2 linked regions of the Homo sapiens genome follow. The protein of the gene in region 2 binds, or shares a complex with, the protein of the main gene of each other region. Each region holds a gene or a part of one and is shown on either strand. Other genes may lie near its edges. The genes, in order: PHF10 and SMARCE1.

The links.
Region 1: SMARCE1 (region 2) and PHF10 share a complex: the UniProt entries of both Homo sapiens proteins name them as parts of the neural progenitors-specific chromatin remodeling complex.

The regions. Positions count from the first base shown.
Region 1 is NC_000006.12:169,717,865-169,721,691, forward strand, and holds part of PHF10 (PHD finger protein 10), read right to left. Parts: intron 3,248-3,827; coding exon 3,141-3,247; intron 1,055-3,140; coding exon 924-1,054; intron 43-923; coding exon 1-42. UniProt on the Homo sapiens protein: Involved in transcription activity regulation by chromatin remodeling. Belongs to the neural progenitors-specific chromatin remodeling complex (npBAF complex) and is required for the proliferation of neural progenitors.
Region 2 is NC_000017.11:40,637,563-40,641,389, forward strand, and holds part of SMARCE1 (SWI/SNF-related matrix-associated actin-dependent regulator of chromatin subfamily E member 1), read right to left. Parts: intron 11-3,827; coding exon 1-10. UniProt on the Homo sapiens protein: Involved in transcriptional activation and repression of select genes by chromatin remodeling (alteration of DNA-nucleosome topology).

The sequences.
Region 1 (3,827 bases), on a different chromosome or scaffold from region 2:
GGTAGAGTTTCTCCTTGTGAGACAAATCTCGTCGCTCTAAATCTCCAAAAAAAAGATCAAAAGACTATTAAAAACAGCAAAACCTTATGCACTTGTAAAACTTTTAAAAGCTTAAAAACCTTGACTTTTTAAAGTATTCATATTACATATTCCAAATATTATTAAAGGGGCTACAAAAAAATTTATAAATTCAAGAAATAAAACTCAGCAAGATACAAAAGTTAGAATAAAATAGGAAATAGAATAATCCAAAGCAAGAAGGTCATATAAATAACTATACTAAACTAGTTCATGAGGAATAGCCTTTCTCAAATTCAGATACGGCTCATATAGCTAACTCTATTCCTTAGATCAAGAAACAATGGTAAAAATCCCAAACTTGACTATAAAATGATTTTTTCTAAAATTTTCCTCAGGAAATTCACCTTTCCCATTTTGCTTTTAAATCAGTTTATGAGCCATAGAAAATATCAATAATGAAGAGTGATGCTGAATGATAGCAGTAAATGAAACACAGCCAGGCGTGGTGGCTCACACCTGTAATCCTAGCAATTCAGGAGGCTGAGGCAGCAGGATAGCTTGAAGCCATGAGTTTGAGACCACGCTGGGCAACATAGCAAGACTTCACATCTCTAAAAAAATAAAAATTAAAAAAATCTGCCACGCGTCGTGGTGCACACCTGTAGTCCCAGATACTTAGAAGGCTGAGGCAGGGAGACAGCTAGCCCAGGAGTGCAAGGCTGCAGTGAGCTATAATCGCACCAGTGCGCTCTAGCCTGGGTTACAGAATGAGACCCTTAGTCTTAAAAAAAAACAGCAAGCACAAGAATATAAAATATAATCTACAGAAAAATTCAGAAGTTGACAGTGTATCATAAAGAATTACTATCAATTATAAATTAATCTATTATATAAACTAGTACCTGGATATTTCCTTTTAAAGGAGGTCACACCCAAATATTCACTGACTTGTTCTTGAAGCATATAGTATTCTCCTGTTTCATCAGGTGGCCATTTGTACTCTATCAAGTTTTCTGCTGGATAGTAACTAAAACTAAGTACAGAAATACATATTATGCATTAAATGTAGCTTTCATTAATTTTTAATCACTTTTATTGAGGATATTTTGAAAACTATTTTAAGTATTTAAATTATTTGCCTCCTATGACTTGACTTCCTGTGTATCAAAGAAAATTACAAAACAGGTACAAGGAATAGAAATAATTATCTGGTCTACCAAGTCAAAAAGGTATGTGAAAATAACATCTTTTATACACTGGGAAGAACGTAGAATCACAATTGCTAAGAACGAAGGCATTTTTAGTTTAAAGGACCTATGAGGGCAAAGCAAGGTGATGATGGTATCAGCTCTGACTTCTTTCTCTTGGGCTTAAAATGCATAGCCAGTATTTCATCCACCCAAAGAATAATCAACTTCTGTCTCTTGTCTACTGTTCAGTGAGTCATAAATAGCTGAGAAAACAGAACTCTTAAAAACCTATTATCTCAGTGCATCATATCATAAACCGTAACTGTTTGTTCTCAGATACTCCACAAACCCAGAAGCAAAGAATGGACCTAGTTTGAAGGTGCCAGGGTATCACAGTCGATCTCCATCCTGAGTAACAGAGTACAGATTTCAGGATATGGGCCAATTCAACCTCTATATTGGACATGGGAAAGTGACACTATGTTATGCATCCATCTATTTAAAAAGTAACCTTCAAAAAGAACAGTGTTCTCAAAAATGGTGCTGGGAAACTGGGTATCCACATGCAAAAGTATAAAATTGGACCTTTACCTCATATCACAACTCAAAATGGATCAACAACCTAAATATAAGAGCTAACTAGAAAACTCTTAGAAGAAAACATAGAAATCTTTCACAACCTTGGATTTGAAGGTAGATTCTTACATATGACACCAAAAGCACAAGCAACAAAAGAAAAAATAGATGAAAAATTTGGGCTTCATCAAAATTAAAAATTTTGTACAGGGACACTATCAAGACAGTGAAAAGACAACCCACAGAACAGGAGAAAATATGTGTAAATCATATTTTTGATGAAGTATTAATATATAAAATATATTTAAAAAGCTCCTACAACAAAAAAAACCCCAAATAAAAAATGGACAAAGAACTTGAATAGACATGTCTCCAAAGAAGCTATACAAATGGCCAAGCAGATGAAAAGATGTTCAATATCAGTAGGCATTATGAAAATGCAAATCAAAATCACAATAAAATATCACTCCACACCTTTTAGGGTAACTATTATTTTAAAAAATGAAAAATAACAAATTGGTGAGAAATATGAAGAAACTGGAAACTGTGAATTGCTGGTAGGAATGTAAATTGGTGTGCAGCCCCTATGGAAAACAGTTTGGCAGCTTCTCAAAAAATTAAACATAGGATTACCATATAATCCAGCTACTCCACTCCTAGATAAACATCCAAAAAAACTGAAAACACAAACTCTGAACACCAATGCTCACTGCAGCATTATTCACCTTGGCCAGAAGGTGGAAACCCAAATGCCCATCAACATCTGAATGGATAAACAAAATCAGTATATACATAAAATGGAGTATTATTCAGCCTTAAAAACAGAAAAAAAGTCTGACATATGCTACAAAGATGAACCTTGAAGATATTCAAAGTTCTAAGAGAAATAAGCCAGCCACAAAAGGACAAATATTTTATGGTTCCACTTATATGAAGTAACTAAGTAGTCGTATTCACGGAAATAGAAAGTAGAATGATGGTTGCAAGGCGCTAAATAGAGGGAGAAAGGGAGGTTATTGCTTAATGGTTATAAAGTTTGGGGTAGTGAAAGTTTTGGAAATGGATGGTGGTAATGGCTGCACAACACTGTGAATGTAACTGATGCCAATGAATTTCACACTTAAAAATTGTTAAAATGATTAATTTTATGTATGTATGTATTTTACTATCATAAAATTGCTTTTTAATTACACTCAGTAGCAAGACCAACTTTGATGGCACATTATAGAACAGGAAGAAAATATTCTACAATTTTTAATAATTGCCTTTGCCAGAGCTGGGGGAAAGGGAAGAGGATGTTAAGGCAAAGAGGAACATCACAAAAAATATTAATAACCGATAAAATGACAGTACCCAAGATCTTGACTTGAAGTTTCACAACTCCTAGAACTATCTCCTGAGCCCATTCGCCTCCTTTTGGATGGCTGGGTCCCATCATTTGAATTATCTTCATTATCATCCTATACATTTAAAAGATTCAAAAATAATAATTAGAGAAAGAATAAAAGAACAGTAAGTCTCAATAAATGAAAGACTGTCTAAGGACAACTAGTCATACAAGTATTAACTTCATATTATAATTAAAAGGGTCCAAGAGTTTGGCATGAGCAAGACCTGGAATAAAATTTAAAACTGATCTTCAATCCAATCCAAATAAGAACATTTTCAATGAACCCGTAAATGCAAATCTGCTTTGGTTTCTGCTCTTCATAAACATATCAAACTGCTGCATCACTCTAGGATTAAAGCAAACTCTCCTACCCAAGCTCAGGGGGAAAAAAATGTATGGATCATTTACAGTTCTCAATTCAACTTGAAGCCGGTTCATAGGACTATTTTAATTGACTACTTTAGGCATTTATGTCCCTGTGAAAAGGGGACATATGAGACCGAAAACAATTCTAACTATTCACTCTTCCTCTTACACTGCTAAAATTTAGCAAAAATATACCCTAATAAGGGTCATCAATCTATAATATAGCAGCACACACACCAAAAAAAGAAGCTTGAGAGGGGGAGGGGAATTTTTTTTTTAAAGAA
Region 2 (3,827 bases):
CAGAGGATGCCTACGAAAGAGTTAAATACATTCATTATTCAACTGTAAGGAGTTCACTGGCAAACTGAAAAGAGAGTCCCTTAAAAAATTCTAATGCGCCTTTCTTCTATTCGTCCAAATATTTTCTTCACTGAAAATAGCTATCACTGCAAATTCAGAAATGTTCAAAAGAAAATGACTTTAAGCACATAATTTTTAAATGTTTTACTTAGCAGTTTATTGCCAATGCTTTGACAACCTGGCTGCAAGAACAAATAAAATATTACACAGTAACCCATACATTGAAAATATATGGTTATATATCAACCGTCTCAAGTTCAGGACATTACCTGGTACCCTCTTATTCTGCTCAATTACCATTACACATACAGTCAACACTTGATTATCTGCAGCAGGATCTGAACCCTTAACACTTACCATTCTCACACTGTCTACAGGGGCCTTAACCTATTAGCACTAGGAATGTACTCCCAACACCACCACAAAAACAACTTCCCAGGTTCAAAAACAAAAACAATTAGTGAAATAACAAACCACCTTACCTCCTTTGCCAGGCTAGAGATTTTATTTCTCTTAAGGTTCTGTCTGTTACCTAGTGGTTTTCTTGTAAAGGGGAATGAGAAGTGTGAATTAAAAGTCACACATTGTTTTGTCCTGAGTCCTAATCACAGTGTAAAAGCAAACAAGTTTATCAGGAACAGAGAAGTGGCAGATATCGGGCCTGATTACGTTATTTTTGAGGTCTTATATCAAGAAGCTCCATTCCATTAAAAATGTTCAGTTTTATGGGAAAGACAGAGGAAAAGGAAAGATGTGATGTACAGGAAAAGAGAGACAGAAGAAAAGGAGGCGGAGGGAAGACTGAAAAATATTTTTTAAAAAGGTAAAGCAAAAATAGGTGAAAGAAAAAATAAAAAAAGAAGGAAAGAGAAAGATAAAGTGATCAGTTTTTCCTGTGGCTTAAAGTCTAGGTGAGATTCCAGACAGCCTCTGGTAGACCACCCAGATAACACCCATCTAAAAGTATCTATTTCTGAACTTTTTAGTCTCCTGTTAATATACATGACTGCATTTGATTAAAGACCCAGAATAAGAAAAATCATTGCTATTTCAGACAATTTGCAAATTTTCAGGAGATCTCTGATATTGACTCTCCCTGCTAGGCTGGAGAAATGAAGTGTTGGCTTTATTTTAATTATCGAAAGACAGGATTGGCAAATCCTTATAGGAAAACTAAAGTAACATTTTGTTCGCTTCCCCTTCTGTTGTTGCTATGATAAAACCCCAGAGATACTCCTCCACTCTGGGCTGGGACCCCAATCATAACCTTATTTTTCATTTGAGGGCTCAGGGATTAGCATGTTTGTGTCCTTTTCCACTATGATCAAGAAATGTTTCCTCTTCCTACAAGGGTCTCTCTCCATCCCTATAACTCTACTTCTTCAAAGCATTTCGCCTTGGAAGCAGTATTTCCTCTCTTTCCATTCCTCCCATGCATTCTTGTCACACCTCATGCTAGTGCCCAGGTAGACAGACACTGTTTTTGGCCAGCAGTGGGTAAGAGAGTGAGATGGCCAGGGGCATGGAAACTGTCAAAAGTGGTAGGATGGGCAGCCAATACAGGGAAACCTGTATCAGGGTCTATAGTTCTTTCAAGGGGAAAGAGAATTCCTATAAGACTAACCTTATGGATTCAGAGGAACAGACACACACAAGTCTGCTTCTTCACACATAAAGTTACTAGAAAGTATTTCCAACTCATATCCAACACAAACCTTCAGAATTCCATGAAATGGATTACAAATAAAGTTGGAATTGTGCCCATAACTGAGGTGGTAAGACCACTGTCAAAATTTTTTGAAATTAAAGAGGTAAAGAATTCTAAAATGCCTATGCTTCCGAGCTTTAATATGAATTAAAACACTTTAAAAACACAGTAGTATTTGCTCTTTGATATTTTTCAAAGAATCACATTTTATATTAATGGAATTGCTATTTCCCCTCCTTTCTCCCAAAGAAAGGTACACAAATCATCTGTATATTGAGACCAGTCAACTTACAACAACAACAACAAAAACCCAAACTAAAAAAACACCCCAAAACAATAATAAAGTTAAATTCCAGATGGTTTTCAGGATAGTAAAGATTTATATCATTACACACCTCCAATTTATTTAACGTCTCAGACAGACATCTTTCTACAATGTCTTAAACATTTCTTTAAAAAAAGCTGAACATACTTTAGACCCTTTCTGGATAAGATTCAATTAGAAACAACCACTGTTTTGCTGTGCTGTAACCCTCTGTCAGATGTCAAAATCTGTTGTTGACTCTTTCAACGGCCTAGGGGCTATGCTTTTGGAGAATGTGTTTCCATTTTTGAACTGTTTCTTTCCTTGCTACTATCAGGAAACCCACCTCTAGCAGCAACTCTCTTTCCAATTTTCTGCTTTCAATTTCCAATGGGGAGGCGGGTAGAACTGTGCTTACAGAAGAGCAAGGTCCTAGGAAATCTCCTATGAATAAAGTTCATGGTTTTGTGAAATTTATCTTGGTTACTCAGTTTTTTGTTGTTGTTTCTTTTGCAATTCTCAGCTGTTTCTCTAGCAAGAACTTATTTAAGAGCTTTCTTCTGGGGCAGAATTTCTATTAATGTACAGAAATAGGCTGTTTTTAAAGACATTTTTGTCTCAATGTGTTTTCACACCTGTACTTAAGAGAATGTTAATCATCATCTGAATGAAGAACTGACTAGGAGTGAATTCCATCTTGTAGCTATCATAAGCACTCCAAAAGGTCTCGACATGCTATACAAAGTATTTACTGTCTGAGAACTACCCAAGTATACTGGAGTCATCAGGGAAACCCAATGTTCTCTACAGCCTACCACAAGCTACTGGACAGGGCTTCACAGATTCGTTCCTTGAAAACCACTAATGCAATCTGCGCACAACAATACCATACAGGAGCTTCCCCTCACCCCCAAAAGTAATGCATAACTAGGGTCATAGTAAAATCAAAATGCTTTTATTATGGTCAAAATCAGAGCCATTGAGTCCTAACAGCTTAAACTAGATATAGAAAGCAGGGCAAGTAGTGTAAAACCTCCACATTTTCTAGGCCCTTCTTCATATAGCAGTTTGATTATACTTCAATTTGGTGTTAAGAGGACAATAATACAAAGTAAATGTCCACAAAGGACCAAAACACCAAATTTTCCATGTCCAACAACTCTCTATAATTAATCTACTATGTAGCTAGTGTCCACGCCAAATGTTCAGTTCTTAACATTCGCCAAGAAGGAATGGGAAGAAACAGATGAGTGACTTCAGATAGGGAGTACACTTTCTCTTCCTAGTCTCCATCGAACAATCTCACTTTTTTAACTGAGAATCCCCCACAGCTACATCCAAGTTAAGAGCAAAATACTTACACAAAACCAAAAGACAAATTACTGTAATATTATAGTTATCATTTCTATTCCATTAACATAGATAATCAAGAGGTGACTGTATAGAGCTATTAAATGCAATCATTCTTGTTTACTGCCCGTGAAAAAATTGCTGCATTAACATTAAGATCCATGATTGATTCCGTTCATTGTTTAAACTGAAATGTTCTTTATCATTTGAAAACCTTGCCATCCATTACACTTGTGAAACAACATGTTTAGGCCAGGGAAAAACATGTATTGATGCACATAAAAATTGTATGCATTGTGAAATGCATACATACACACACTTTGTCAGAATTCTTTTTCAGATACCATGAAATATGCATGGCACATAAAACTTGATATGCTTATGAAGTACATATTATGCAGAAAC